Homo sapiens: one gene and its partners. The protein of the gene in region 1 purifies or fractionates together with the protein of each later gene. This does not show direct contact. Each region holds a gene or a part of one and is shown in the gene's direction. Other genes may lie near its edges. The genes, in order: ZNF597, NSMCE1, SMC5, ANKDD1A and ACADL.

Region 1 (6,089 bases):
TCCCACTCATTCTTGCTGTCATCTTTTTTTTTTTTTTTTAAGAAACAAGTTCTGGCTCTGTCACCTAGGCTGGAGTGCAATGGCACATCTCAAACTCCTGAGCTCAAGTGATCCTCCTGTCTCAGCCTCCTGAGTATCTAGGACTATAGGCATGTGCCACCATGCCTGGCTAATTTTTAAAAATTATTTTTTGTACAGATGGGGTCTCACTGTGTTGCCCAGACTGGTCTCAAACTCCTAGCCTCAAGTGATGCTCCCACCTCAGCTTCCCAAAGTGCTGAGATTACAGACGTGAGACACTGCCCAACCCCTCTCTTTGTTGATAAATATGAATCCTAATCTTTTTTCCAATTGTTAATTGTTCTGCTGTCACTTGAGATAGCTTCAAAAATGAAAGGCTCTTGAGGCCTAAATAGATTAGATGGAAAAGTTCACCTCTAGATAGCTGCTACTGAGATTGTCCTTAGTACCTATCCCACTGGACTCTGACTTAGTTATAGCTATTCTCTCCTTACCTTTGGATATTCACCCAAAACTGGATCTTCTGGGAGGCCAGGAGAGTCTGCTTGGTCCTGATTTTGTGTGGTTAGTGTCTGGGTTATAGAATAACCCTTCTAAGGTTTCCTGGTCCTGTTTGTAACTACCTTAGCTTACTTTTTCCCCAGTATCCCTTGAAGATATTGTCTATGTTTTGCTTTCTTTTGTTTTTATCAACAGGAGAGGAAGGCAAGCCTGAGATTAATCAGCAGTTAAGCCTAGAGTCTATGGAACTTGACGAGCTTGCCTTAGAAAAGTACCCCATTGCTGCACCCCTTGTCCCTTACCCAGAAAAATCCTCTGAGGATGGAGTTGGAAACCCTGAAGCGAAAATATTAAGTGGAACTCCCACTTACAAGAGAAGGGTCATCAGCCTTTTAGTTACCATTGAAAACCACACCCCATTAGTAGAACTCTCTGAATATTTAGGAACCAACACACTTTCTGAAATTCTTGATTCTCCCTGGGAAGGAGCCAAAAATGTGTACAAATGTCCTGAGTGTGACCAAAACTTCAGCGATCATTCATACCTAGTTTTGCATCAGAAAATTCATTCAGGAGAGAAAAAACATAAATGTGGTGACTGTGGAAAGATCTTCAATCATAGAGCCAACCTGAGGACACACAGGAGAATCCATACTGGTGAGAAACCTTATAAGTGTGCCAAGTGCAGTGCCAGCTTTCGCCAGCACTCTCATCTATCCCGACACATGAATAGCCACGTAAAGGAGAAGCCCTATACATGTAGCATATGTGGTAGAGGTTTTATGTGGCTCCCAGGATTGGCACAGCATCAGAAAAGCCACAGTGCTGAAAACACCTACGAATCTACTAACTGTGATAAACATTTTAATGAGAAACCAAATCTTGCTTTGCCTGAGGAAACATTCGTATCAGGCCCCCAGTACCAGCACACTAAGTGCATGAAGAGCTTCAGGCAGTCCTTATATCCTGCCCTTTCCGAGAAGAGCCACGACGAGGACTCTGAACGCTGCAGCGATGATGGGGACAATTTCTTCTCATTCTCAAAATTCAAGCCCTTACAGTGTCCTGACTGTGACATGACCTTTCCTTGTTTCTCTGAGCTTATTTCCCATCAGAACATTCATACAGAGGAAAGGCCCCATAAGTGCAAAACATGCGAGGAAAGTTTTGCTTTGGACTCAGAACTTGCATGCCACCAGAAGAGCCACATGCTAGCGGAACCTTTTAAATGTACCGTGTGTGGGAAAACTTTCAAGTCGAATTTGCATCTCATTACTCATAAGCGAACTCACATAAAAAACACCACGTAAAGTAAATATAACAAATTGTTATTAGTGATTGGGCTTTTCAGTATCTGTATGGTGGGAAGCAGTTACTGTATATGTCCCAGGCAATGTGCTAAGCACTTTACACACATTCCCATGTAATACTTAATTCTCAGCACAACCGTGATTTAGGCAGTATCATTTCCATTTTATAAGTAGGGATGCAAAATCCGTGTCACTAAACTAGTGAATGAACCCAGGATTTGAACTCAGTTACTGTACAACTGTGAGCCAGAAGAAGATACACAACTTTTGTTTAAATTCAATTTTCATTAAAATGAAGGCTCTTGCTAAAGTTATTTTAATTTTGTTTACGTAGTTTCTGACTTTTAGAAGGAGGAGAATTTATTTATATTTTGCCAGTTCTGCAGACATATCTAGGAAAGTAAATGCTTTTATATGTTTTATACTTTTTTTTGCTATAACTATTTGAATGTAATACTTGTATAAGATTGCTGTTCTACATGTGAATTCCCACAGGCGTTCAGAAGTTTTTTTCTGCCCTGTAAAAGTTCCCAAATGGGTAGACTAGTTTATATTTTGATGGCCATTAGTATCCGGAGTTCTCTGTCATGGTTCTGATGCCAGGGGCACATACTGGCATTTAGGACCCAATTGTTTGCAAGGAGTTTTGGAAGTCTAACTGCAGCCCTTTTCTGGAGGCTGGACTTGACTTGGGGAGGGGGAGAAGTACTTGCTCTTTTCTAAGATTTGCCTCCAAATTGCTACTGAAGCACATTACCTGTCTTACTATGAATAATTGTAATTGTTTCTCAGTGAGCATGCTAGCTACTTTAGATATATTATGTAATTTAATCTTCAGAATCTGTGACAGAGAAAAAAAATCTTTGTTTCATAAACGAGGAAACTGAAGTCCTCAGAGGGTAAAGTCAGTTCTTTGCCCAGCACACAAATCACATTGTGGTGAAACTGACATTAAGCTTGGGTTTCTCTGACTCCAAAGGCCATGCAGTCTGCAAGACTGCGGCATTTGTTGGCATTTGCACCACGTAGTAGCACTGCAGGCAGCCAGGGAAAGGGGAGCTGAGATAGGTGAGGGTGGTCCTCATGGAGGCGATTCTGTGTGCTTGCATCCTGGAACCCCTTCATTCCCTTTGTGCTGTACCCAAAGCCTGACTAACATATACAGTTACAAAGCAGCAGAAGACTCTCCAGGACTTCAGGTTTGAATTCTTGTCCCTCTAATCAGATGAGAGATTTCACACTTGGCAGAGTACAATACTGAAGGTCTTAACTGGGTTTTGGTTTTTTAAAAAACACCCATAACATTTCCTCTCCATCTCCAAAGAAAATGCATATAGAAAATTGTTAGATTTTAACCAAAATACTTGATAATATATAGATCTTTAGATATTGCTATTATAGATAAATACTGGAGCAAAATATTATTAAATGGTATGGTTATTAATGTTAAAGAACCACAGAATGTTGTAAATATAGATTCATATACAATTTCTCATTAAAGTCGATTGTATGCCTATCAGCAAAACAATATTTACATGGGTTTTGATTAGGATGGAAGAATGCTCTCATTCTATTTAAATAGACAGTATAAAAGTACAATATTTGCTAAAATTGAATTGTTGCTGGGAATTTTTGCTGGGAGAAAAGATAAAGGACTCTTGAGGACTAATTATATGGAAGGTAGCAGAAGGTGGTCCTACAGAACAGCAGATTGAGGACTAAATATACAAAAAATGCTGGCTACTCAGCTAAGCTCTTATTACTGAGTAGAGGCAGGAAGATACTGTTCAGGTGAGAGAAAAACTGAAACTAACAAAAACATCCCTAACCCAGAGAGAGTTTCTCTCTCTTTGTCATTCTTGTCTTGTTTCTTGTTTGCAGATCCACAGTTGAGACAATGTGCTGCTCTGTATGTCAAGGTCAGACTTTGGCTGTTTGTTTCTGATGTCTCCACTCTTAGGAGACAGGACACCAGCTTCCAGGTTTCTCTGAGGTGCTTTGAAATGTGTAGAAAGATAGTCTCCAGTTAGATTACTTATTAGGCAACTCTGAGATACCATGACCTTTGTTAAATAACAAGAACACCACCTCCTTGCTCTCCTGCTTCTGCCCTCAGTGGGAGAAACTGGCAGGAGCCTCATCAGCACATATCAGGGGCCCTAAGAGTTCAGTCAAAGATCTAATGAGTCACAGGATGGGGGATGAAATTGGGAAAGGTCTGGATTAGCAGAGTTGCTGCAGAAAGAAGTAGAGGGGAATATCTTAGAAGGCACTTGGACAGAATGGGGGTGATATAAAAGATGTATGCTGTCATTTTTGTTTTGGCTCCTAGAAAATATAGCAGAAAGTGAGAATTTGTGCCATACATCCTGTTCTGCACCTTAATATGGAAGTTTGCCTTTCCACACGAGTCTTCCTTCACAATTAACCTCTAATTTTTTTTTTTGCAGTTTTCTCCAGATTTTGGAAGATTACGACAAACTTCCTAAAAGATTAGAAAAAATAGCCCTTTTCAGAAACATTAACATACGTGTGGGTAGAACTAAAATGGCTTTTTGGTATAATACTGTTAATGATTAGTATGCAGAAAAAAATGAAAACCCCGGAAGTGTCAGTTACTGTGAAAGAGGCATATTTTCAGTTGTGCTTATTGTGCAGTTGTACTTAAATACATTTGCTAGATGTAATTCAAGCTGCTTTACCCCCAGGGAATTGAAGGAAAAGATATATCTGCTGGTGAGCTTCAGGCTTTTTATGATGATGGCATTTCACCCTTCTGTTTACAGTGTCAACTGATGGAGATAAATTCCATAAAATTGTCATTAACTCAGATACTAGCCTTCCATGTTAGGTGCTATTCACAAATACTGGATAAAAGTTAATATGGGAATGAAAAACTAAATGCAAGAGTTTATTGCTATGAATGATTGGTTAACTGCATTTTGCAGCATGGAAATCAACACACTATGAGAGTGAAAACTTTGTGCTGAATAAATTGACTCAGACAAATTTCTCCGTTTTTGTCGTTGATGCAGTGATGAAAATGTATATCCAACAGTTCCTTAACATGATTGCTGGAATAGTTAAACAGTCTTTTAAACAGTCGTCATTGATGAAAACAGCATTTTTCCAATGGAATTCAGATGTCAGCAGTTTACATTTTATAATTTAAGAAATTGTGGAATGTAGTTGTTTTGAATGAGGTCGACTCAGAATAGTTTTATTTAGAGCTTTGTTGCTACAGGTGGTAGTCTATTGACACCTCCTCATTTAACATAGAAAATGACTAACCCAATAATTCAGGGAGTTAAAACTCAAATGACATTTCACAGCAAATGCCATTTTGAGTCTTTGCCTCCTGAGTTTCCATATAATTAAGTGGCAATGTTCTAGTGACTGCAGCATAAGATGTCATACAATCTGAAACTGCAGAGTTTGATCAAAGTAATCTGCAATTTACTGCCTATGTGTACAAAGGGAGACATAGCAGGTTATAGTTTATATGAATAGTCTATTTTGAATGTTCATTAAACTTGTTATCCCTGTGGGATTTTAGTAGGAAAGTGTATTTGCTTTGACCATCTGTTTAACAAAATGATGTTCATTACATTAGAAGTGTATGTATTCATCTGGTTTAGTTTTGTAATTTAGAAGAGCTATTGATCTGATTCAAAGATAACCATTACCCATCTTTCCAAGGCCCATCTAAGTAGTACAGGTGTTTTGTCTTTTAAAATTGACAGTCCTCTTTGCATTAAGTCTGTAGGGGGGGAATACAATATAAATATTCTTCTGTGTAAACGTAAGAATGTGCTGTAATCTCCAGTTCCTTTGGATACCTCAGAATTCTATTTATTGTATACACTTATACTGTTTATTCAATGTTTTGGGTCTTACTCTTTTTGACGTATTCTCATCAGTCTTCACTCTAGTTTGCAAGCTCTGAAGTTATTGATTACGTCTAATGTGCAATTTGGCTTCTATTAAATGCTATTTTATGATGATGGCAATGAAGTGAACTTTTTAAAAAAAATACGTGGTTTTAGGTGGCAATCAGGTTAATTTTGAAGACTGTTAGGATTCTGGTTTAGAGACAGAGAGTGAAGGACTTCGTGCTACTTAATAAGGGAAGTAAAATCGCTTGCTCCCTGGAACTCAGCAGAAAATTCTGGGTCATTCTGGGAAGCTAGCGCTAGACCTCAATTTCCTTTCGTCTTTGCTGTACACAGAAGTACAGGGGCAAGGACCTCTGTCTTC
Region 2 (6,089 bases), about 24 Mb from region 1:
GCTCACGCTGTTATCCCTGCACTCTGGGAATCAAGGTGGGAGGATAGCTTGAGGCCAGGAGTTTGGGACCAGCCTGGGCAATGTAGCAAGACCCTCTCTATTTTTTTATTTGAAAAAAAGAAAATAAATTATAAAACAAAAAAATGGGGGAGCTTAGCACAACACTTAAGGGCACAGCCTTAGACTGGGCCGGACCTGAAGAGTGTGTCCCTGCCCTGTGTCAGCTGAAGGCATTTGGGGCATCTTACGGGGCCACTGGGAGGGGCAAATAAGAAGCCCTTGGAGACAGGACATGGTGCTAAGTTCTAAGTAACTGGAGATGGTGGAAGAAACAGTAGGATCAGTGTTGATAGATCAGTCGAATTAGCATTGGCAGATATTGTTGAGTTGTGTGCCAATATGGGTAGATCTTACTGATTAGATTTTATGCAGTGACAAAGGTGATGGATGAGTAATTGTATGATGTGATTATGTTGTTTTTTTGTGAAGTACAAAATCGTTTTCATTGGTTATGAATGCATTTGCATGTAAAGGTATAAAAGTGGACCAGAAGAAGACGCAGGACACTTGTGAGGTGCTTGTGAGGAGAAGCAGAGTGGGAGTGGGCTGTCAGCAGAGATCACAGGACCCTTCACTTTTATCCTGTTATGTTCTTTTATTAAAAAGAAAAGTCTTGAAGCCAACGTGACATTATTAGCCTAACAACATGACATTAATTAGTGTAGTCTACTGGTTGTCACCTCTGATGAATGGGAATGCAGGCGTTTGGTTTTTATTCTGCCTTATTCTGCCTTTCTCTCTGTATTTTTAATTTTCAAAAGAAAAAGATAAAAAATGACATAGAAGTGAGCCAAGCCAAGAGGTATGAGAAAGGGCGTGTACAGGTACACAGGGAGCAAGTACACAGGTGAAGGGACACAAAAAAAAGGCAAAAAGATGCTTTCATTCTTAGTCCACAGGCATCCTGTAGCTCCTTGCAGTGAGCTGTGAAAGGGCGAAGGGACACCAGAAAGGGTGTCCCTCCTGTCCCCAAAGGCAAACACTTCATGAGTGCATTACATCTTCTTCCCAGCCACTTTTATGCCTTTGCATGCAAATGCATTCAAAAGTGATGAAGATCATTTTATACTTTTCAAAATGTGAAGGGACACGAGAAAAGGTAGGTGTCACATTTGGAGCACTGCAGTTTCTGCAGCATGTTAGAGTTCAAAGCCTGATCCCAGAGAGGTGAGCAGTGAATGGGAATAAGAAGAGGGAGACAGAACAGAAACGAATATTCTTTCAAGGTGTGCAAAGGAAGGAGGAATAAAAGAAGGTGGCGTGTTAGACGGAGAAGAAGCAGTTTGAAGTGTCTGGAGAGTAGCATCTGCGTTCTCCAGAGCACTGGTCCATGGAGGTGTTCCATGGGGAATTCTGGGAGCTCAGTAATGCCAGGAACAAGTTAGCCTGTTGAACTGTGTTTAATTCTGTGTATCCAAACCTAATTGACCTACTGATAACCTACCCTGGGAATCCCTAGACAAGAATATATGATGTGTGGGAAGAGAATACATTCTTTTCGTGTGTAGGTTTGCAGATCATGAAGAACCCTATACACCATAGTAATGGCTTTTTACTTCTGCGGACAGTGTGGCCCTCTTGAAGTATTCAAAGCAGAGAGTGAGAGAGACAGTTTTAGGTTTGAGAACCATCTCCGTGGTGAAGGTAGATGCGCCGCAGTTGTACCAGCAGAGAAGGATCTTTGGTGAGAGACTTTTGTATTGAAAGGGGATGTTATACCTGTTAAGCTAGTTTCTCTTGCTCTTTAAAAAGCATAGTAGCGGCTGGGTGTGGTGGCTCACACCTGTAATCCCAGCACTTTGGGAGGCTGAGGAGGGTGGGTCACCTGAGGTCAGGAGTTCAAGACCAGCCTGGTCAACATGGTGAAACTCCATCTCTACTAAAAATACAAAAATTAGCCGGGTGTGGTGGTGCATGCCTGTAGTCCCAGCTACTTGGGAGGCTGAGGCAGGATAATTGCTTGAACCTGGGAGGCAGATGCTGCAGTGAGCTGAGATCCTGCCCCTGCACTCCAGCTTGGGCGACAGAGCGAGACCATGTATCAAAAAAAAAAAAAAAAAAAAAAAAAAAAAAAGCATGGTTGGACTTTAAACCTACCCCTCAATATCCTCCAGAAATGTGCATAAGAACGCTTGTCTTCAGCCTGAGCAACATGGTGAAACCCAGTCTCTACCAAAAGTACAAAAAATTAGCCAGGTGTGCTGGCACACACCTATGGTCCTAGCTACCCAGGAAGCTGAGGCAGGAGGATCGCTTGAGCAGGGGAGGTGGGGGTTGCAGTGAGCTGAGGTTGCACCACTGCACTCCAGCCTGGGCAACACAGTGAACCCCCATCTCAAAAAAATAAAAGAATGCTTGTGTTAATCCTGAATCTCTTATTTACACGACAATTTAGTCCTTTTCTCTTTTTTTCTCCTGTGAGTCTTGACTGTAAGCTTTCATGTTGGTGGGGAAGTTTCACAGCTCACTGCAAGGAGCCACATGATGCCTTGGTACTAAGACTGAAAGTGTTTTTGCCTTTATTTGACCTTTAAAATTGTTATGATCTAATTTAGGAAAGTCCTGTAGAATGTGTCTAGGAATTGATTTATTCTTCACACTGTGTACCATTTCTTTGCACCTAGATATGGTTATGGCCAGGGTGAACAGGGTAGAACAATCTATTTTGTCCTATCTTCATTTAAGAAAAATGCCAAAAAACTTGTTACTGCATGTTCTTGTTATTAGGGAGATTTTAAACAGGAAATGACAGAAATTATCTAAACTTAAGTGAATACTCGCAAGACCCAATATTATTAATTTCCTATCTTTTGAAGAGATGGCCAGGAAAATCCCCTTGTACCAAATAGAAAAATATTTAGCTTCTAGGAAAATTATGAAACAAAGGAGTGATTGAAATTGCAAGTTATTCTAATTGCCATTTCCCAGGGTGTTTGTCCAGTTTATCAAATCACTTCTTATTCTAGGCTTTGGTTTGGGTTCTCTTCTTACTGTCGTTAAGGGGAAACAAAGTCCCCAATTCTCCTGGCTAGTGAAGAGTTTAGATTTTGTTCTCAAGTTCAGTGCAGGCCTTGGGTCGAGCCTTTCGGAATGGCGCTAGGGACCTGTGTTCTTAGAGGACCTTAGATTTTTGAGCCAGGACTTGCATCCACACATACGTTTATTCAACCAGCAAAGCTTCCCTAGAATCTCAAGTGAGCCAGGCCTCTGTGCTAGGGACTGGTGACTCAGAGATTGAATTTTTATTTTACCATGGCTCTCATGAGTCATACAGACAAGGGGTCAGATGATTCCAATATAGGCCTCCTTGATAGAAGTCGGCACAGGAGGCCTCGGGGGTGGTGGAGAAGGCTTGGGTTTGAGGTTTTCCACTTTTGGCCAGTATGGAGCAACAGGGCTCAGTACACCTTCTTGCCTGAAACAATTCAAAAATGGACAAAGTATAAAATACTGGACATTCGTCAGTCAAGGCCAGTGATCTTTCGAGAGATGGGCAATGAGGGTTTCTTTTTCTCTTGACACTTGATGTGGTATCTTTTCTAACACTACTCCAGTTCTCTAGATAACAACTGGGCATTCCATAATTCAGTTTAATTCTGACACTATCTGCCTGGAGTTAGCATCAAATCCTACAAGTTAAAGGGCTCAGTGTCACAAGACTGACCCAACTTAAGACACCAGTTGTAAGTCCTGGGCTACCTGTGTTTCTGACCAATGGCTGTACATCAGTGGTTCCCATAACTCCCTCTTTGGATTTGATAATTTTCTAGAATGATTCATAGAACTCAGGAAAACACTTTACTTACATTTTGACTTACGTGGTTTTTTTATAAAGGCTACAACTCAGGAACAGCCACATAGGAGAGATCACAGGGCCAGCTGTGGGAAGTGGGGGTGGCATGGAGTTTCCGTGCCCTCTCTACTTGCACCACCGTCTCAACGCCTCTGTGTGTTTAATAACCCGAAGCTCTTCAAATCCTGTCGTTCAAGGGTTTCTTTTTTATTTTTATTTTTATTTTTTTTGAGACAGTTTTGCTCTTGTCGCCCAGGCTGGAGTGCAATGGCAAGATCTCGGCTCACTGCAACCTCTGCCTCCCAGGTTCAAGCGATTCTCCTGCCTCAGCCGCCTGAGTAGCTGGGACTACAGGCGTGAGCCACCACACCCGGCTAATTTTTGTGGTTTTAGTAGAGATGGGGTTTCACCATGTTGGCCAGGCTGGTCTCGAACTTCTGACCTCAGGTGATCCGCCTGCCTCCGCCTCCCCAAGTGCTGGGATTACAGGCATGAGCCACCGCGCCCGGCTAAGTTTTAAATTATTTGTAGAGACGGGGGTCTTCTTCTGTGGCCTAGGCTGGTCTCGAACACCTAGGCTCAAGTGATCATCCTGCGTCAGCCTTCCAAAATGTTGGGATTCAGGCGTGAGCCACTGCACCCAGCCCAGTTTCAGGTTTTATAGGGCCTGTTGATTATTGAATTTGGCACACTCTAAGAAAAATAATCCCACAAAATTGTGAATCCACCATTAGAAATGATTTGAAATATTTATTTAGCCACCGTGCCTGGCCATTCCTGGGTTTCTATGGAGGTTTCTTTACACAGGCATGATTGATCAGTCACTGGCCGTTGACGAGTGCTTCCATCTCCAGTCCCTCTCTTCTCCTCAGATATTGGGGAGTGGCTGAAAGTTCCATGTTTTTTATTGAGGCTTGGTCATTCTGGTGACCAGCCCCCATCCTAGGGGCCTGCCAAGAGTTGCCTCATTAGAGCAAAAGATGCTTCTATCACCTATATGACTCAGGGAATTCTAAGAGTTTTAGAAGTTCTGTACCAGGAACCTGGGGGAAAGACCAAGTAACTTTCTTCTGCCACAAGCGATAGTGGGAGTGAGCAGTACAGCTGCCCCAGCTCAGTGCCTTTAGAAAGTTTCTAGGCCATGGCACAGGGGAAACCCAGGCAGAGCTAGGCAGCCTCCCTGCGTTGAGGAGATGGAGATGAGAGTTCAGGGAGACTAAGGCAGGTAGAGGTTGCAGGACGGAGTACTTACAATGGAGTATAAGGTGGACCAGAGGTGCACAGAGAGAAAACTTGAGATGTCCAAAGTGCCCCTCCACTCAAGGATCCCGCTGAGAACTGATGAGCAAGAAAACTTCTTAAGGCCAGGGAGAGAACTAGTTGAAGGATTAGAGAAAACAATGCCAGCTATTCACAGAACTGGGAATAGTGCCCGGCCCAAACATTTGAGGAAGAACTCACACCATTTCTACCCAAACTCTTCTGTAAAATTGAAGAGAATATGTTACAACTAATTCTATGAGACCTGCATGATTCTGATACCATAACCAGACAAAGACATTGCGAGGAAAGAAAACCCCAAACAAGACTCCTCATGAGCGTAGACGTTAACGTGCTAAACCCAACTGTGGCAAATCTAATCTAACAGTGTTTACAAAGGATGGTACGACATAACCAAGTAGGGTTTATCCTGATTTTGCAGGGTTGATTTAGTATTAATATTTGAAAATCAGTGTAATTCACCATATTAAGCTAAAAAAGAAAAATCTTGTGTTTATCTCAATAGGTACAGAAAAAGTATTTGACAAAATCTCATGTTTGCCCTGGTGTGATGTAGCAGAAAGTTTTTTATAGGAAGCTAAGGGATCCTAAGTAGCAGGGGATAAATAGGATAAATAGACTTAGAACACAAGTGAGGAGTCTGAACTCTACAGAGTTTTATATATATATATATATTTATATATATATATATATATATATATATATATTTTAAATAATTAAAATTAAGGCTGGGCGCGGTAGCTCACGCCTGTAATCCCAGCACTTTGGGAGGCTGAGGTGGGCAGATCACCTGAGGTCGGGAGTTCGAGACTAGCCTGACCAACATGGAGAAACCCCGTCTCTACTAAAAATACAAAATTAGCTGGGCACGGTGGTGCATGCCTGTAATCCCAGCTGCTCGGGAGGCCGAGGCAGGAGAATTGCTTGAATCCGGGAGGCAGAGGTTGCAGTGAGC
Region 3 (6,639 bases), on another chromosome or scaffold:
TGCAACCTGAGGTTTTCCCAAGGTTGTTTTATTTTTTGCCTGTTGCTGTGACTTTTCAGGTAGGCTGCTGCTGCAGTCTGAATTTTTTCAATGATTTTTCCTTCCCGTCTCTCTCATTTTCATTTGCATTTAAGAAAATTTCCAGTAACTACGACAAGTTCACATGCTTTTTACTTACTCTATTTTCTCTGGAGCGGAGTCCTTGTGTGAGAGGAAGCAGCAGAGACCTGGGAAAGGAGCTTTGGTCTAGGAGTCAGGAATCAGGGATCTACTGCAATAGCTTTCTAAGTGGCCTTCCACTTCCACACTTGGTGCCCTCTAATCCATTTTCCACACAGCAACCAGAATTATTATTTAAAAACTTTAAGGCCAGGCACAGTGGCTCATGCCTGTAGTGCCAGCACTTCGGGACACCGAGGTGGGCGGATCACTTGAGGTCAGGAGTTACAGACCAGCCTGGCCAAAATGGTGAAACCTCGTCTCTACTAAAAATACAAAAATTAGCCAGGTGTGGTGGCATGCACCTGTAATCCCAGCTACTCGGGAGGCTGAGGCAGAAGAACCGCTTGAACGAGGGAGGCAGAGTTTGCAGTGAACTGAGGTGGCACTACTGCACTCCAGCCTGGGCGACTGGGTGAGACTCTGTCTCAAAAAAATCAAATAAAAAAAATCAAATAAAAAAATTAAAAGCTTTAGTCAGAACATGGCCCTCTCCTGCTTAAAACTTTGCAATGGCTTCCCATTGCTTTAAAAATAAAATTCAGGCTTTTCCACGATGGACAAGGTTCTGCTCTGCAACCTTGTTCACTGCTCTGCAGCAACACTGGCCTTCCCACCTCAGAGCTTTTGTCCTTACTGGTATGTTCCAGCAAAATTCTTTTGCCTGGGGTGCTCTTTTCTCAGATCGTCACAGTTTCTTCTCGTCCTTCAGAGTTTATCTTAAACACCACCACCTCTCTAAGAGGCCTTCCGTACCTCCCACCCATCAGGTTCATTTTGTTTTCTTCCTAACACCTGTCACAGTCTGACATTATGCTAATCATTTGTTGTGTCAGCCTTAAGTAGTGAAATTCAGAAAATATCATTAAGTATAGAGTTTATTCTAACGCAAAGCTTGAGGACAGCCACCTGGAAACACCAACTCCAAACAAATAGGGTCAATGTTCCAAAGTGAAGTTAAGGTTTCATTTACACAGGCAGAAACAGAGAAGGTTCAGCAGGAGTACATTTTCAATACAAGAGCAGTGCATAAATTACAGCGATTAGATTAGTTATAGATAGCTACATTCCAAGGAAGATAACTATATTAATTTATGAAGGGGGTAGTGATCTGAGGGGGTCTTACCTCTGTCTCTGTTTGGTCTTCCTGATTATAGGAAAAAACAAGGCAGACATTGCAGCTGTATGCCATGGGACTCAGGCCCCATCGCCACATTCTTCGCAAGGCTCAGAATAATTTAAAGTTCCAACAGCTTTAAGTTTGAATTATTTAATTTCACAGTTGATTCACTTGTTCTTTTCCTGTCTCCCACAATAGAAAATAAGCTCCCAGGGATGCAACCTTGGCAGGCTCCTAAACTGCCACGGCTCCAGTTTCTTGTAGATTAGATATTCACTGTTGGTTAAATGAAAGAAGTTCTAGACAGGCCTCGGTGTGCTGCCTCCTCTTTAACGAGAGGGCTTACTAGATGAATGTGAGCAGACGGAAGCAGAACACCCTCTTAATGAAGGCAGCGCATTCCAGCTCAGGGATTTCTAGAAACCTCGGGGGCGGAAGTTTAACCAGAGAATTAGGAGGCAAGGGGAAGAGTAGCAATGAGGTTAACCTGTGCAGTGTAGTCATTTCACGAGTTTGAGAACGCCTAGCACGATGCCTTAACGGAGCGTCGGGCACAGAGTCATTTGGGAGGATTTCTTTTTCGGATTTTTGAGACAGGAACCTGATTTGAAGCAACAGGGAAGAACACCAAGAGGACGAAGAGCCAACGACGGGCGTGCCCGGGAGCTCTCACCTGGAAGGGGTGGGAGCAAGCAGGGCCTGACGTCCTCCCGCCTTGGCGGCCGTGGACGCCCCAGGTGCCACCCACAGCAGCCTCCCACCACACATGACTGAGGCTCGGGAAGCAATAAAGTGGCTTTCAAAATACTAAACGCAATTGAGATTTTTTCCTGAGTTAAAACAAAAAAAAAAAGGAACTGAATGCCGAAATATACGGAGAAGAAACTCCAGTTGCCACGTCCCCGAACGTCTCCACCCAGTCCTGCCTGCTGTTTCGCCCTCAGTCTGGGCCTCGCACAGCGCGGCGGAGCGCGGGAGGGGCGGGGCGGGCCTGCTGACGTCGCCGGACCTGAACTGCGCAGGCGCGGCGCGAGATCGCGGGAGCGAGCGCGCGGTAACAGTTCGCGGCAGTTCGCGCGGGAGCGGGGCGCCTGGGTGGATGGGCGCTTGGGCGCCTGGGCTGCCGGACGGTGGGAACGGAAGTCGCTGTGGGACGCTGAGGAAGCCAGGATGGCGACTCCGAGCAAGAAGACGTCAACTCCAAGCCCCCAGCCTTCCAAGAGAGCTCTCCCGAGAGACCCTTCGTCGGAGGTCCCGAGCAAGAGGAAGAATTCGGCCCCGCAGCTGCCGCTGTTGCAGTCGTCCGGGCCTTTCGTGGAAGGCTCTATCGTCCGCATCTCGATGGAGAACTTCCTGTAAGTTGCCCGGAGGCCGCGCCGCGGGTGTGGAGGTGTGCTGGCCAGCAGGCCCCGGGGCTCCGGCAGCGCGCGGGCGTGGGCGTGTGGGTGTGTACCTGGCTTGTGGGTCTGGCCTTGAATTCGTGCCGGGGTTCCCTTGAGGATTTTCCTACGTAGGCTGTGGAGATTGACGTGTATGATGTAGGAGATGTGTGCCTTGGGTGATGTGGTTTTTAAATTTAGTCAGCCAAGGTTTTCCAAAGGTGTCATGTAGCAGGTAGTGGTTGTAGGAGGGAGTAGGTCTCTGCCCGCTGGGAGTCGCGATCCATAGCGGCCCTGGTCTGGAATTCACAGAAGTATTGTCCCCGGGAACTTAAGAGGAGGCAACAGTTAATTCGGCGTGATAGTGATGCTGTGGCGGATTCTTAGGGTAGGCATTTGCCAGAGAGGAGTAGATAAGACGGTAAAGGTTGTTCGGGAATGGAGGTTACAGGTACAAAAAAATTAAACACTTACTGGCAATTGTTGGACCTCCCTACAAACCCTTGACCCCACTAAACCCAGTTTTCTTCCCTGGTTCCTCCCTCTCCCCTTCAGACAACTAGTTACCGCTTTAGAATTTAGTAAGTTTTAAATATATCATGTATTTGCCTAGCACCTTCCAGTTCATTTGTTCCAGGTCTTTTTTTTTTTTTTTTTCCTCTTTTTTTTTGAGACGGAGTTGCGCTCCTGTAGCCCACGCTGGATGGAGTGCTGTGCCGCGATCTCGGCCCACTGCAACTTCCGCCTCTCGGTTTCAAGCGATTCTTCTGGGTCAGCCTCCCGAGTAGCTGGGACTACAGGCGCGCGCCACCACGCCCGGCTAGTTTTTGTTTTTGAGACGGAGTGTCATACTGTCGTCCGGGCTGGAAGGTAGTGGCGCAATCTCGGCTCACTGCAACCTCCGCCTCCCAGTTTCAATCAATTCTCCTGCCTCAGCCTCCCGCGTAGCTGGGATTACAGCCAGCCGCCACCACGCCCAGCTATTTTTTTTTGTATTTTAGTAGACTCGCGGTTTCACCGTGTTGACCAGGCTGATCTGGAACTTTTGACCTCAGGTGATCTGCCCGCCTCGGCCTCCCGTAGTGCTGGGATTACAGGCGTGAGCCACCATGTCCGGCCGGAAGTCTTTTTAAAGCTTGCACATAGTGGCATAAGGATAACAGAATTGTAATAACAATACTACCTTTTTTTTTCAAGCACCTATTGTGTGCCAGGTACATAGTGCACTCATTCTTTCTTCATAACAACTCTATCTTGATAATTTCCATTGCTGAAAGAAGCTCAGTAGGTTATTTTGCCCAGTTTTACGCAGCTGTTACATAGTTGCATTGCTATTTGAATCCAGATCAGGAAAGATAAATGTAATCAAATGAGTTAGATACCATAACAACATATATCAGGATCCTTCACAAAGGATGAAGTGGTTAGTTTTGTCTACGAGTATGAGAAAGGGCTTTGTAAAGAAGATATGAAAGTCTTTGGTCTTGCTCTGTTGCCCACGCTGGAGCTCAGTGGCATGATCAGGGCTCCGTGAAGCCTGGACCTCCCCTTCTCAAGTGATCCTCCTACCTCAGCCTTTCAAGTAGCTCGGACTATAGGCGCGTACCATACCTGGCTAATGTTTTAAAATTTTTTTGTAGAGATGGGGTTTCACCATGTTGCCCAGGCTAGTTTCGAACTTCTGGGCTCAAGAAACTCACCTCGGCCTCCCAAAGTGCTGGGATTACAGACATGAGCCACTGCACCCGCCTAAGAAGATAGGAAAGTCTTGCAAGAAGTGAAGAGCATTGAAGACAGAAGGAACTGTCTGAAATAGTTTGGTATATTTAGAAAGCGTCAAGTATTTTAGTAAGGCAAGAATATAGGATGTGAATGAGTATTTGGACAAAGGGTAAGCAACCATTCAGGGGCCTGTATGTTTACTATGCTAAGAAGTTCCGACATCATCCTGTAGGCAGCCACGGTGTGTTTTCAACAGGGAATGACGTGTGTTCTGTGTTATTCTGGAAGCACTGTAGAGGATGATTTAGAAAGGGTGCAAGATTGGAAGCAAAAAGACAATACGAAGGCAAGAGATGATCAGAGTGTGAAGGAATGAGATTTGACAGGATCCAGCTACAGAATAGTTGTGAGGCATGGGGGAAAGGGAGGAATGCAGCATTTTTCCCAAGTGTAAGAGCCTTAGCTAATTGATCAGGTGCTATTCAGAAGAGGGAGCAGTTTGAGGAGAATAATAAATGCCTCTTAGATCCTGTGACTTAAAGTTTCCTTTGTGGCATCTAAGAGAGATGTTCTATAGGCAGAATGTAGGAGTCTGGAGCTTAGAGGAAAATATGAACAGATGAGAGTTTTGGGAGTCATGCATACAGGTGATTGATGAAGTTGCAGAACTGGTTATGATTGCCCAATAGGAATTATGAATTGAAGAACTAGAAGACCATGTACAGAGTCTTGGGAGAATGCCTACATTAAGGGTGAACTGAAGAAGGACTCAAAGTCAGAAGGAACTATTCAGGGAGGTAAGATGAAAACAGTGGGAGACAATTATCAAAGAAGCCAAGGAAAAAGAATGTTTCAAAAATATCACCTGCTACATTGAAGTCAGATAGCGGGACTGAAAAGAGCCCACTGCATTTAGCAATTGGGAAATCTTTGACCTTTTAATGAAGCAGTGGAAGCAGAAAACTTTGCAGGCCGGATGCAAAGAGAAGAAAGAGAAGGTAGCTGGAAGTGCAGAGGTTGGTGAGATGCTGTTTATTTTAATGAGGGGATTTTGAGTTTTAGGCATGAGGTAGAGAAAGATGCGCTTAGAGAATTAGCAAGGAAATAAGATGGGTAGTTAGAGAATGTAAATGGCCTGGAAGAGAGTAGTGAGTGAACCAAGTCAAATGGAGTTGGGAGTGGAGGAAGACACTTGGAGGCTGAAGGAATAACATGTGCAAATACTTCAGAGCAATAAGGAATTATAGTCACAAAACTGAAAGAAGTACATTATAGGTAGAATTTAGAGGTCTAAGGAGAGAATAGGGAAAGGAGATAAAAAGTAGAAAAAGATGAAACTCGGCTGTGATGGGTTTTTCCTTAATTTTTCTTTTTTAACAAGTGACATCAGATTTACAATTCTACCAGCATCACTTGGTGATTGATTGGATGATGGAGTGGTGGTTTGGGTGGAGTCAAAAGAGATGAAAGAACCAAAGAGGATGCAAAACTAATGCCTAGGTTTCTGATTTGGTCAATGGCATGAATGATAATACCATTCACTAAGAGACCACAAGAGTGGTTTTGGATGGGAAAGATGGTGGATTTCGTTTTAAATGTGTTAAGTTTAAGATGACTGTTATGGGACATTCAAATAGCGTTATTGAGGTGACCATTGCATATAGAGGTCATCTGGACTGCTTTCAGCATGTAGATAGTATGCAAAGACTTGGAGAAAAAAAGGAATCATTGAGGCCATAGAGAATACATGAGATACCTCGTGAAGTATATGGAATGATAAGAGGGTGGGTCTTTACCAATAGCTCTTTCAGAGGGAGCTCAGAGGAAAGGAAACTCATGATAAGGGAATTCCCAATAAATACATCGTAGAATCAGAAGATTGATTTTAAACAGTGCAGACACTTGATCTGGGTAGCTAAAGGCAAGAAAAATCCCCCGCCTACCCCCGCCAAAAAAAAAAAAATTGCAGAGGCTTTGTTTTTGGCAACTGTCCCTATTTGTAATATCGATGCGTATTTTATAGGCCAGAAATTCTCATGCTTTTCCCTGTTCTGTTTTCTTAAATACCAGTTTCATCGTTTTAGTATAACATTTACACAGAGATTTCACAACAGGAAATCCAAGTGGGGCTTCATGTGTTGAGCGTAAGAAGTTCCATGTCAGGTAATTTCCTACATGTCTGAAGTTCCCAAACTAGTT
Region 4 (6,089 bases), on another chromosome or scaffold:
CTTTTCTTCTCCTCCTCCTCCCTTCTTCTTCCTCCTCCTTCCTTTTCTTCTTTCTTCTCTCCTTCTTCTTCTTCCTCTTCCTTCTCCTTCTTCTTTAGTTCTTCCTCCTCTTCCTTCTCCTTCTTCCTTCTTCTCCTCTCCTTCTTCCTTCTCCTTCTTTCTTCCTCCTTCTTCTTAGTTCTTCTTCTTCCTTCTCCTTTTCTTCTTTCTTCTCTCCTTCTTCTTCTTCTTCCTTCTTCTTCCTCTTCCTTCTCCTTCTTTTCTTTCTTCTCCTTCTTTTCTTCTCCTTCTCCCTTCTTCTTTCTTCTTCTCCTTGTTCTTCTCCTTCTTCTCCTCCTTCTTCTTTCCTCTTTTCTTCGTTCTTCTTCCTCTTCCCTCTTTTCTTTCTTCTGCTTTCTTCTTCCTTTTTTTCTTCTTCCTTATTCTTTTCTTCTTTCCTCTTCTTTTCTTCTTTCCTCTTCTTCCTCTTTCTTCTTCATTCTTTCTTCTTCCTCTTTTCTTTCTTCCCTCTTCTTTCTTCTCTTTTTCTTTTTTCTTTTCTTCCTCTTCTTCTATTGTTTCTTTTTTTCTTCTTTCTTCCTCTATCTTCTTCCTTTCTTTCCTTTCTTCTTCCTTCTTTCCTCTTCTTTTCTTTCTTCTTCCTCTTCTTCTTTTCTCCTTCTTCTTTCTTCTTCCTCTTTTCTTCTTCTTTCTCCTCCCTCTTTTCTTCTTCCTTTCTTTTCTCCTTTCTTCTTCCTCTTTCTTCTTGTTCCTTATTATTCTTTCTTCTTTCTTTTCTTCTTCTTCTCCTTCTTTCTTGTTCCTTATTCTTTTCTTCTTCTTCTTCTTCCTCTCCTTCGTCTTCTTAGTTCTTTCTTCTTCTCCTTCTTTTCCTTTCTTCTTCCTTCTTAGTTCTCCTTTTCTTCTCCTTCTCTTCCTTCTTAGTTCTTCCTTCTTCTTCCTCCTCTCCTTCTTCTCTTCTTCTCCTTCTTCTTCCTTTTCTTTTCTTCTTCTTTCTTCTTCCTTCCTCTTCTTCCTCCTCTCCTCCTTCGTTCGTCGTCTTCTCCTTCTTCTTCTTCCCTCTTCTCCTTCTTCCTCTTTTTCTTCTTCCTTCTCCTTCTTCTTCCTTCTTCTCCTCTTTCTTCTCCTTCTTCCTCCTTCTCCTTCTTCTTTTCTTCTTCCTTCTCCTTGTTCTCCTTCTTCCTTATTCTTCCTTCTTCTCCTTCTTCCTCCTCCTTCCTCTTTTCTTCTTCCTTTTCTTCTTCCTTCTTCTTCTCCTTCTTTCTTCTTGTCTCTTCTTCTTCTCTCCTTCTCCTTGTTCTTCTCCTTCTTCTTCTCCTTCTCCTCCTCCTTCTTCTTCCTTCTCCTTCTTCTTTCTTTTTGTTCTTCTTTCTTCTTCTCCTTCTTCCTTCTCCTTAGTTGTTCTTCTTCCTTGTTCTTCTCCTTCTTTTTGTTGTTCTTTCTTCTTCCTTCTTCTTCTTTCTTCTCCTTTTCTTCTTCCTTCTCCTCCTCCTTCTTCCTTCTTCTCTTGTCTCTTCTCTCTCCTTCTTCTCCTTCTTCTTGTCTCTTCTTCTCTCTCCTTCTTCTTCTCCTTGTTCTTCTCCTGCTTCTCCTCTTCCTCTTTCCTTCTTCTTCCACTTCTTCTTCTTCCTCTTCTTCTTCTTTCTTTCTTTCTTCTTCTTTTCTCTTTTTTTTGATATGGAGTCTTACTCTGTTGCCAGGCTGGAGTGCAGTGGCGCAATCTTGGCTCACTGCAACCTCCACCTCCCAGGTTCACGCCATTCTCCTGCCTCAGCCTCCTGAGTAGCTGGGACTACAGGTGCCTGCCACCACACCCAGCTAATGTTTTGTATTTTCAGTAGAGACGGGGTTTCACTGTGTTAGCCAGGATGGTCTTGATCTCCTGACCTCGTGATCTTCCCCAGGGATGGGGTGTTCCATCTTCTGCCCTGTCCGGCAGAGTAGCTGCTTGCCACCTGAGGCTGTCATGCACCTGAAATGTTGGCTAGAGGGACTGAGAAGCTGAAATTTCTTATTTCTCATTATTTGAAATTGCAGGCACCCATAGCAAGTGGCATCCATGGTGCTTGGCTTTGAGGTGCCAGGCAAGCACAGCTTGTTCTGGGGCTTGGCTGTACCAGCAGGGGGATGTGTTTCTGGGGAATTGTGGCTCTGGAAGCTTCACGGTTTCCCAGAATGTGGAAAATATATCTGTGCAGGATAGAAATCCTGCCCAGAGGCTGTTTCTGTCTCATTTGAGCTCTCCTTCATGTGGCAGAGCTGGCTGTGGCGTTTAGGAGCCTACATTTTAGAAAAGCTTACCTCAAAGTTCTGCATTGAGCCTGAGACTGGAAAGGAGATAAAATAAAACAGCTGACAGGAGCTTTGGTAGTCACACATGCCTGATGGGGTGCACAGGGCCACAGTCTCTGAAAGGCAATTTGGCATTGTCTGTCCACAATATACTTTTATCCATTGGTCCAGCAATCCTACTCTAGGAATTTTTCCTACATATAAACCTGTATGCATACAAAATGATAGACATACAAGGTTATTACTCTGAAAAAGCAAAAGATTGGAAACAAACCAAGTGACTGGCTACAGGGGACTGGTGAAATAGAGTATGTTCCATCCACACAGTGGAATTCTGTTCAGCAGTGAAAAAAGGATGAGAGTGCTTTCCAAGTGTTGTTATGGAAAGAGCTCCAGGATAAATTAAGTGGAAAAAAACCCCAAGATACAGGTACATTAAACCGAAGGAAATTGGTTCAGAGGATAGCTGCACCATTTTTAGAGAAAAAGCTTCCTTTCTCTCTTCACCTTTTGCAGGTGATGTATTTTTTTCTTTGGATTCCTTTTTTTTTTCTTTTTTTTTGAAACAGTTTAGCTTGGCCGGGCGCAGTGGCTCATGCCTGTAATCCCAGCACTTTGGGAGGGCAAGGCGGGCAGATCACGAGGTCAGGAGATCGAGACCATCCTGGCTAACACAGTGAAACCCTGTCTCTACTAAAAATACAAAAAATTAGCCAGGCATGGTGGCGGGCACCTGTAGTCAGTCGCAGCTACCTGGGAGGCTGAGGTAGGAGAATGGCATGAACCCGGGAGACAGAGCTTGCAGTGAGCCGAGACTGTGCCACTGCACTCCAGCCTGGGCGACAGAGCAAGACTCTGTCTCAAAACAAACAAACAAAAAAAGAGACAGAGTTTCACGCTTGTTGCCCTGTCTGGAATGCAGTGGTGTGATCTTGGCTCACTGCAACCTCCGTCTCTTGGGTTCAAGCAATTCTCCTGCCTCAGTCTCCGGAGTAGCTGGGATTACAAGCACACACCATCATGCCCGGCTAATTTTTGTATTTTTAGTAGACAGGTTTCACCATGTTGGTGAGGCTGGTCTTGAACTCCTGACCTAAGGTGACCCATCCACCTCAGCCTCCCAAAGTGCTGGGACTACAGGCATGAGCCACGGAGCCCAGCCATTTTTGGATTCTTAAAACTTAAGAAAAATTCTAAAACATATTTGTGATCTATTACGTTATGATATATGATAGGGAAAAAATAGACAACTTTACCTACCACTAAGTTATATTTAATCAGCATTCTTTTGTTTCCTAACATATATGTTGCGAGCTAAATGTATGCTCTTACTCTAAATCTTTCTGAGCTACACTTTAAGGGTGATAATTGTTTTGTTTTGTTTTTTGAGACAGTCTTGCTCTCTCACCCAGGCTGGAGTACAATGGCGAGATCTCAGCTCACGGCAACCTCCGCCTCCCGGGTTCAAATGATTCTTGTGCCTCAGCCTCCCGAGTAGCTGGGATTACAGGTGCATGCCATCACAGCTGGCTAATTTTTGTATTTTTAGTAGAGATGGGGTTTGGCCATGATGGCCAGGCTGGAAAATTGAAACATAATTTCACAATTATTCCTTTTTCCACCTTAAATAATAAGAGTAGAATACTTTCTGTGTTTTTATCTTATACACATGAATAAATGCTATGGCTTATCACAGTTACAATGTGTTTTCTGAAAGTAAAGATTATTTTACCTTGAAATTACAAAAATTATTTTCAGTTTTCCAAAATTCTATCTTTAAACCTAAATAATTCAATTTCATGGATGCACAAATGTTTATTGAGAGTCTCATATTCATGCTTTTCTTCACAGCACTATAAAGTTGGACTTGGAAAATTTGGACAGCCATTTGCCATTGTAATTTTTATTCTTTTTTCTCCTGATTATTTGACAAAACTTGTATCCACATTGTAGCTGTTCATGTGTCTGCTTCTATTGCATATTGTAAAATTATTAACTACTTCCCAAAATAGTATTTCTCTCAGCAGATATTTCTTTGGTACTACCATGTATTGTGTAACTTTTGGGAAAGTAAGGTGGCTTCCCTGCTCTCAGTGAAGCATTTTATTAAAAGAATAATTATAATTAAAAAAACACGATACAGATCAGTGCATATAGTATATTACTAATAGTATGCTGTTAATTGTGTAAGAAAGAAAGGAAATTAGAAAACATATTTGCATAAATAAAAGCTAGACAAAGGCTAAGAAACTAATCAGGTGGTTTCCCTGGGGTAGTAGGATAATGGGGAACAGTGGGGCTGGGACCGGGTGGGAGAAAGAGTTCTCAGTGGTTCCTTTCTATACAGTTTTAACTTTTGAAATGTGTGAGAGTGTTACTTACTGAAAACTGAAAGGATATGACATGCTGGAACAGGCAAAACTACAAAGACAGTAAAAAGATCAGTGATTTCCAGGAGCTGCAAGGGCAGTGAGAGGAAGGGAGGGATGAGGAGGTGGAGCGCAGGGGATGTTAGGGCAGTGAAAGGTTCTGTATGACACTGTGATGGTGGGTACATGACATTGGGCATTGGTCAAAACCCATAGCATGTACAGCACAAAGCGTTTGCTCTAATGTGAGCTATGGACTTTAGTTAATAGTAACGTGTCAATATTGGTTCATCAGTTGTATCAAATGTACCACACTGATGCCAGATGTTAATAATCGGGGAAACTGTGTGTGCTGAAGAGTACGTGGGAGCTCTCTGTGCTATCTGCTCAATTTTTCTCTAAACCTAAAACTGTTCTAAAATAGAAAGTCTGTGAAAAAAAACAAAAGTAAAGTTATAAAAGGAAAAGAAAACAGAGGCTTTAAATTAAATCATCTATTCCTTGGGAAAGGTATTTTGTACCATATGGGACTGAAATCATTTATCTGGATGAATTTTATAAAATGAATTTTGTAATTTTTTTCTGAGAAAAAAAAGTTCTTAAATACAATAAAATTGAAATGTTGAAATATATCTCTCAAATCCAGTACTCATATCTTTTCTTTGGGAAATACAGGGTGAAATTCCAGGTCAGACAAGCTGTCACAGATTGGTGCTATGTAAGCACAATGGCTCAACTCACGGACAGTGAATACTTCCTGAGTGGATTTTGTGCCAGGTGGCCTGCCAGGAGTGGGTACAGAGATGAGAGCCCACAGTTCCCTCCCCTTCCCCAAGCTTAGGGTCTAGTAGGGGAGAAAGGCTTGCACACCAATAACTGTAATAAGGTGCAGTCCACGCTGTAATGGATGGGTGCAAACAACTATGGGACTCCTTCCTGGGGGAAGGAAGAAAGGAAGGGGAGGAAGCAGCTCACAGAGGAGACAGAAGTGGGGAAAAGGGCAGTCCAAGCCAACAGCACAGCCTAAGCAATAGCCCAGAGGTGTGGAGAGGGACCCCCCACCTTGGGGAGTAGCGTGGCTGGAGCACAGGATGCGTGGAAGGAGGGGGAGCTGTGACCTGAGGGGCAGGAGGGGGAGGGGTGCAGATGCATTGGAAATTGTTCCCCACCCCATCACCAAAAATTAGATGTCTCATAAAGTAGAAACTGAACAGAATAGACTCCGCCTTTGGAAATGCACATCTGCTTGTCCTTTCAGAGTCTACTTTACCTTGCTAATTGTGACTCTCCTTGTTTCTAAAATGTATATTTAAATCACTTTTCCAATGGATATTTACTTACAGTTACTCCCTCCCTTTTCTTTGAGACGGAGTCTTCCTCTGTTGCCAGGCTGGCGTGCAGTGGTGCGATCTCGGCTTACTGCAGCCT
Region 5 (6,089 bases), on another chromosome or scaffold:
GCAGAATGAGAAGATAATTATTAATATTTGCTCTGAGTATACTGTTTTCTGTATCAATATCATCTGATAATCCCTCTCATTTGGCTTGTCATTTTTCCCTCCTTAATCATAGTTTCCTATTTAGACCATTTTAAAGGAAGCAGGATATCAATTACAAAAATCAAAAATAGTCCTTTTCAAAAACTGATAAATCTGAGAATAAATAATATAGTGCCATTTACAGCAGATTTTCTTTCTTTTTATTTTTCTTTTATTTTCTTTTCTTTTTTTCTAGAGACAGGGTCTCACTCTGTCACCCAGGTTGGGGTGCAGTGGTACAATCATAACTCACTGTAACCTCAAACTCCTGGACTCAAGCGATCCTCCTGCCTCAGCTTCCTGAGTAGCTTGGACTATATATAGGTGCACACTACCACATCAGCTAATTTTTAATTTTTTTGTCTCTACTATTTTGGCAAGGCTGGTCTTGAACTCCTGAGCTCAAATGATCCTCTTGCCTCGGCCTCCCAAAGTGCTGGGGTTACAGGTGTGAGCCACCGGGCCCGGCCAGATTTTCTTTTCTTATCAGTGGCTTCCTTCTAAAATACAATTTATCATCATAATAGACAATTTGGTTTCATTTTTAAAGAACATAATAATCTCTGTTTATTATTATTATGTATAATATTAATAGTGAAAAGAAAATCTATAGGTTTCATTCTTTGAAGCATTAAGTAATTTTTCCCCTGATCCTTGATAACATCATGTGTGAATAATCAACTTTGCAGATATTTGGGTAGGGTACAGAGAGAGGTATCAAGCATGTCTTGTCTGTTTTAGTTTTCTGTAATATACTTTCTCCCAATCATAACTTGCACATAGAATTGAATTATCATGGTGCATTAATAATGTACTTGGGGTTTTGCAGGTGTTCATCAGTAATGGGTCATTAAGTGATGTTGTGATTGTAGTTGCGGTCACAAATCATGAAGCTCCCTCCCCTGCCCATGGTATTAGCCTTTTTCTGGTGGAAAATGGAATGAAAGGATTTATCAAGGGACGAAAGCTACATAAAATGGGATTAAAAGCCCAGGTGAGTGATAATGTAAATCATATTCAGATACTAATTGAGTTTACTGTTAATCAGATAGGAGACTTACATAGAGGATTACATGTGGCACAATTTTATTTCCTATGCTGAATTCCTAAAATATGCTTTTCTGATGTGGTAATGAGATTTATTCTCATTTATACCACTCTATCTTTCTGATGGTCAGCAATAGAAATGAATCAAGGTATTTTGAATATCTGTTTTAGAAATGGCAAAATTAACTGCATGGTAACAAGCCATCTATTTGTAAAATGCATTAAAGAAAAATATGAAATAAAAATAAAGTGTGGCCAGGCACAGTGGCTCACACCTGTAATCCCAGCACTTTGGGAGGCTGAGGCCAGCGGATCACCTGAGGTCAGGAGTTCAAGACCAGCCTGGTCAATATGGTGAAACCCCATCTCTACTAATAATAAAAAATTAGCTGGGTGTGGTGGCAGGCACCTGTAGTCTCAGCTACTCGGGAGGCTGAGGCAGGAGAATCACTTGAACCCAGGAGGCAGAGGTTGCAGTGAGCCAAGATCACGCCACTGCACTCCAGCCTGGGCAACAGAATGAGACTCTGTCTCAAAAAAAATAAAACAAACAAACAAAAAAAACCCAGAAAATGTTCTTTCTATACATTACCAAAAATGCATGTTTTGCTTAATATGTATTAGAAATCCTTAGTTCCAAGTACCTTGAGAACTGGACAGTATTAGAGCTGGAATGATAGTGTATTGCAGTAGGAAAGCCACAAGGTTTAGAATCAGATGGCTGTGGGTTCAAATCCCTGGTTTACCACTTACTAGTTATGTTCATTAACTACTCCAACTTGGCTTCCAATTTGTGTTTTGTTTTTTTGGAAAAAATAATATTCACTTCAATATTCACTGGGTTATTGGAAGATTTAAATGAGACCATTCTCTACATTTTTTGTATGGTCTCTTAGGATACCGCAGAACTATTCTTTGAAGATATACGGTTGCCAGCTAGTGCCCTACTTGGAGAAGAGAATAAAGGCTTCTATTACATCATGAAAGAGCTTCCACAGGTCAGAAGTGTTTAAAGATTCCATCTTTTGACTGAATAATGAATTGGAATAGAATAATATAGAAACATGTTATTTCTATATTATGCATTCAAATTTATACATGCAAAACTTGTGAAATAGCTAATCATTTGAGTATTAAAGTTGTAATAAAAGTATGAGTTTTATAGGGTAGTTAAGTAAATAACTGAACTCAGTAATATCCAATCAAAGCTTATAAAGTAAGTAGGAAAAACAGATATTTCAGTTCTGTGATTCCTTCTTAGAATGATTTTAGCTTCTTAACTACAATTCAAAAACTTTTAGCTCTTTGTAAGGAAATGTCTTGCAAAACATTTGATAGTTTGCCAGTTTTTAAATAATAACTGTGAATCAAAGGGAAAAGTATAAAATTCAGACTGAAAAGTTTTAGCCACATAGGGTCAGTCCCTAAACAGCTATGGTTTTAAAGTATGGTTGACAAGTGATTATTGAGCCTCAGATGCCAGTGTAAGGGGGTACTCCTGCCTAGTGACTGCCATGAAAAACACCAGCATGATGGAATCAAACTGACTAAGGCTACTTTTACATTAATAGGTAGAATTTAACTTATGTGCTTTAAGATGTTTATTTCCACAGATATATTGAGTCATACAGTGTGCAGAGATTAATAAATTGAAATAAGCAACTGGGGATTGTTTTTAACTCACATGTGAGTAAAGAGAAGAAAAATTAAATTGCATATATATAATGAAGACAGTCATTCATGGGCATGGTGTTATGTGACTGTTGTCCCAGCTACTCGGAAGGCTGAGGTGGGAGGATCACTTGAGCCCTGGAATTCCAGGATGTAATGAACTATGATTGTGCAACTGTACTCCATTTTTGGCAACAGAGTGAGACTTTGTCTCTTAAAAATTTAAAAAGATTATAAAAAAATAAAGGTAGTCATTCATAAAAATAAAGGATTTGCTTTAGAAAGTGATTAGAGATATGTCAAAAGAATCTCATAAATCTGTTTTCTTATAAGGAGTTAAGATATAAATTAATCTTTATGAGTTTATTATAAAGATAATTTATAGGATTTATCGTAATTGAAATTGTGTGAAAATCACTTGCATAATTAGAGTAATGTTTAAGACCTAATTTTTGTGTTATAGGAAAGGCTGTTAATTGCTGATGTGGCAATTTCAGCTAGTGAATTCATGTTTGAAGAAACCAGGAACTATGTTAAACAAAGAAAAGCTTTTGGCAAAACAGTTGCTCACCTACAGGTAAGCTTGTCACTGTGGTTTAGTATTAGATGGTATCAGTTTACTAATCTGAAATGGCCTGGGGTAAATAGAAGTTTGGAGTTATTTTCATGTAAGGTGATATTAGAAACCATGGAAGTGGATGAGATCACTAAGGAGAGATAGTAGAGAGTAAGACAGGAGTGGTCTTAGGACACAGTCCTTGAGGAAGACTACAAGATTTAAAGGTAGAATTCATATTTGGAATTCATATTGTCTGAAAAGGAGGAGCCTGTAAGATGACTGAGAATGAATAAACAGAAAGGAGAAAGCAAATCAGGAGAGCTTTGTCACAGAAGCTGGAAGGAAAGAGGGCTTCATGGAGTAGGGAGTGGGATCAATTGCTGCTTAGGGGAAAAATAAGACGAAGGGCAAAGAGTGTTCATTGAATACAATGATATGGAGATTATTTAGTAAGAGCCATTAATGGAGGTGGAGGGTGACACACCCGATGAGTAGATAGAAATGAGGACGTAAAACAATACTGATGGTAGGCAACTCTTTCCTGAGTTTGGCTGTGAATGGTAGTTGAGAGAAAGGGTGGTAAGCGAAGAGGGGAGGGGAAGGAGATTTGAGATTCAAGGGAGATATTTGGGAGTTATTAATTTTTTGTCGTTATTTTTAGGATGGGAATGCGGGTGCATATTTTAATACCTGTATATAAAGAAAGGATTTAATAAAGAGGGAAAGGTTGTAGATAGGAAGGAAATAATCAACTGCGTAAGGTCTTTGAGAAAGGGTGAGTTTGTGGATGCTGACACATGGAAAGATAGGCCTTCCCATCAACAGGAGAGGGATTCCTTCATTTGCACAGGAAGAAAGGAGCAAAGGACATCTATGAGTTCAGACAGATACATCACTCTGTTGGTAGAAAACTACAAAAGTTCTTTATAGAAGACTTCTATTTCTTTAAATAACGTGGCCAGGCACACTGACTCACGCCTGTAATCTCAGCACTTTGGGAAGTTGAGGCAGGCAGATCACTTGAGGTCAGGAGTTCGAGACTAGCGTGGCCAACATGGTGAAACCCTGTCTCTACTAAAAATACAAAAATTAGCCAGGCATGGTGGTGCACACCTCTAATCCCAGCTACTCGGGAGGCTGAGGCAGGAGAATCACTTGAACCCAGGAGGTAGAGGTTGCAGTGAGCCAAGATCGCACCACTGCACTCCATCCAGCCTGGGCTACAGAACAAGACTCCATCTCAAAAATAAACAAATAAATAAATAAATAACAATAGAGAAAGTCCTTGAAAGACAGGTGAGTGAAGGAGGCATGGAGGTGTTGCAGAAGGGTGAGGGAGGTATGAAATATCTTCTTCAGAATGAGAAACTAAACTACTTTCTGCTTTTTGTGTATCAATCAGCTTTATGATAAGAGTTTAGCTTCCCAGGTACAAACATAGAGAAAAGACAGATGATTGTGTTTACCTAGGATTGAGTTTTCCCAGGAACTTGAGGGTTTTTGCAAAAGAACTCAGTATATAGTGGCCGCAGTCACTAAATATGCTAATTAAATTTTAGACCCTATAGTTTCTTTTTAAATGAAGGAATAGTTTATAATTCCTTCATGTGGTCATCAAATTGGCAAAACATCTCACCAGCAAAAAACCTGGAGTTGGGATTTGACTTAAAAATTTTTAAGTAGAATGACTGGCTGAAAGGCTTTGTGAAGGGAAAGGTAGAAATGAAACAACTTGGTGGCTTTTCAGAACCAGCATTCTAGAAATTATGTTCAAGTGTGGTTTATGTCCTAACACAGCTACTTGAATCTCCGTAGTCTAGTCGTGTTCTCTCTCTCAAAAATAGTTTCCTATTTGTAAATATATAAAATGTATTTGATTTGCAAAATTGTAAAATTTTGACTATAAATCTTTAAAATTTATAACGTTTGTAAATATTTATAAAATATTTTCCTACTTGTGAATATCAGAGACTGCCTCATAGCGTTGTTGTGAGGATTATGTTGTAGAAAAAACTGGGTTCTTGTCACAGGACCAGGATAATTTGGGCACGCAGACACATTGTAGATTGAGTAGGGCAGGGTTTATTAAATGAAAAGGAGAAAGGAACTCTCAGCAAAGTGAAAGAAAGTCCTGCGAGCAGTTCTCCTGCCTCACAGATTGAATCCTAGGTCATCACACAGGAACAGGAGAGGCTAGGCTCCTCTCCTCTGCAAACAGTGTGAACTTCCCGAGGCTCCACCCCGTCCTCCCAGTGCACAGGTGGGCATTATTCAGAAAGGATCAGTTGGGAAAGGGCAGGCTTCATCTGGGACCAGCAGTCGGGTTTTTCAGCCTTTAGGCTGTTTAGGCTTGAAGGCAGGGTTTCACCAGAGACCCTCGGCTGTCTCCTGTCTCTATCAATTAGATGGGGTAATATACATAAAGCGCTTGGAATATTGCCTGGCAAAGTAAGCCCACATTAAAATTAGCTGTTATCCTTATTTTATTCCTTACATAATGCCTTGCTCCATTTTGTTTCAATATGGGAGACCTTTTTACCATCTACTTCCTCTTGCTCTTGATCTAGACCCTCTCTTTGTCGTTTTGGGAACTGTTTGCTACCGGTATTGTCATCAAATTAACTTTTTCCATCCTGAAAAAAAGTCTTTACATCCTAACTTTTCTTATTGACATAACAAACCTAAAACAGTTGTTCTGAATCTCTAAAAATGAGGTACACTCAATCAAGAAAAC

What was found.
Region 2: the proteins of ZNF597 (region 1) and NSMCE1 purify together in Homo sapiens (affinity purification with mass spectrometry; 4 studies listed by BioGRID and IntAct, with this or other methods). This does not show direct contact.
Region 3: the proteins of ZNF597 (region 1) and SMC5 purify together in Homo sapiens (affinity purification with mass spectrometry; 4 studies listed by BioGRID and IntAct, with this or other methods). This does not show direct contact.
Region 4: the proteins of ZNF597 (region 1) and ANKDD1A purify together in Homo sapiens (affinity purification with mass spectrometry; one large-scale study listed by BioGRID and IntAct). This does not show direct contact.
Region 5: the proteins of ZNF597 (region 1) and ACADL purify together in Homo sapiens (affinity purification with mass spectrometry; one large-scale study listed by BioGRID and IntAct). This does not show direct contact.

What each region holds. Positions count from the first base shown.
Region 1 is NC_000016.10:3,432,167-3,438,255, reverse strand, and holds the end of ZNF597 (zinc finger protein 597), read left to right. Parts: intron 1-717; coding exon 718-1,832; 3' UTR 1,833-5,842; downstream 5,843-6,089. UniProt on the Homo sapiens protein: May be involved in transcriptional regulation.
Region 2 is NC_000016.10:27,250,912-27,257,000, reverse strand, and holds part of NSMCE1 (non-structural maintenance of chromosomes element 1 homolog), read left to right. Parts: intron 1-6,089. UniProt on the Homo sapiens protein: RING-type zinc finger-containing E3 ubiquitin ligase that assembles with melanoma antigen protein (MAGE) to catalyze the direct transfer of ubiquitin from E2 ubiquitin-conjugating enzyme to a specific substrate.
Region 3 is NC_000009.12:70,256,570-70,263,208, forward strand, and holds the start of SMC5 (structural maintenance of chromosomes protein 5), read left to right. Parts: upstream 1-2,408; 5' UTR 2,409-2,509; coding exon 2,510-2,694; intron 2,695-6,639. UniProt on the Homo sapiens protein: Core component of the SMC5-SMC6 complex, a complex involved in repair of DNA double-strand breaks by homologous recombination.
Region 4 is NC_000015.10:64,953,399-64,959,487, forward strand, and holds the end of ANKDD1A (ankyrin repeat and death domain-containing protein 1A), read left to right. Parts: intron 1-3,704; coding exon 3,705-3,790; 3' UTR 3,791-5,293; downstream 5,294-6,089.
Region 5 is NC_000002.12:210,200,615-210,206,703, reverse strand, and holds part of ACADL (long-chain specific acyl-CoA dehydrogenase, mitochondrial precursor), read left to right. Parts: intron 1-907; coding exon 908-1,072; intron 1,073-2,021; coding exon 2,022-2,123; intron 2,124-3,259; coding exon 3,260-3,373; intron 3,374-6,089. UniProt on the Homo sapiens protein: Long-chain specific acyl-CoA dehydrogenase is one of the acyl-CoA dehydrogenases that catalyze the first step of mitochondrial fatty acid beta-oxidation, an aerobic process breaking down fatty acids into acetyl-CoA and allowing the production of energy from fats.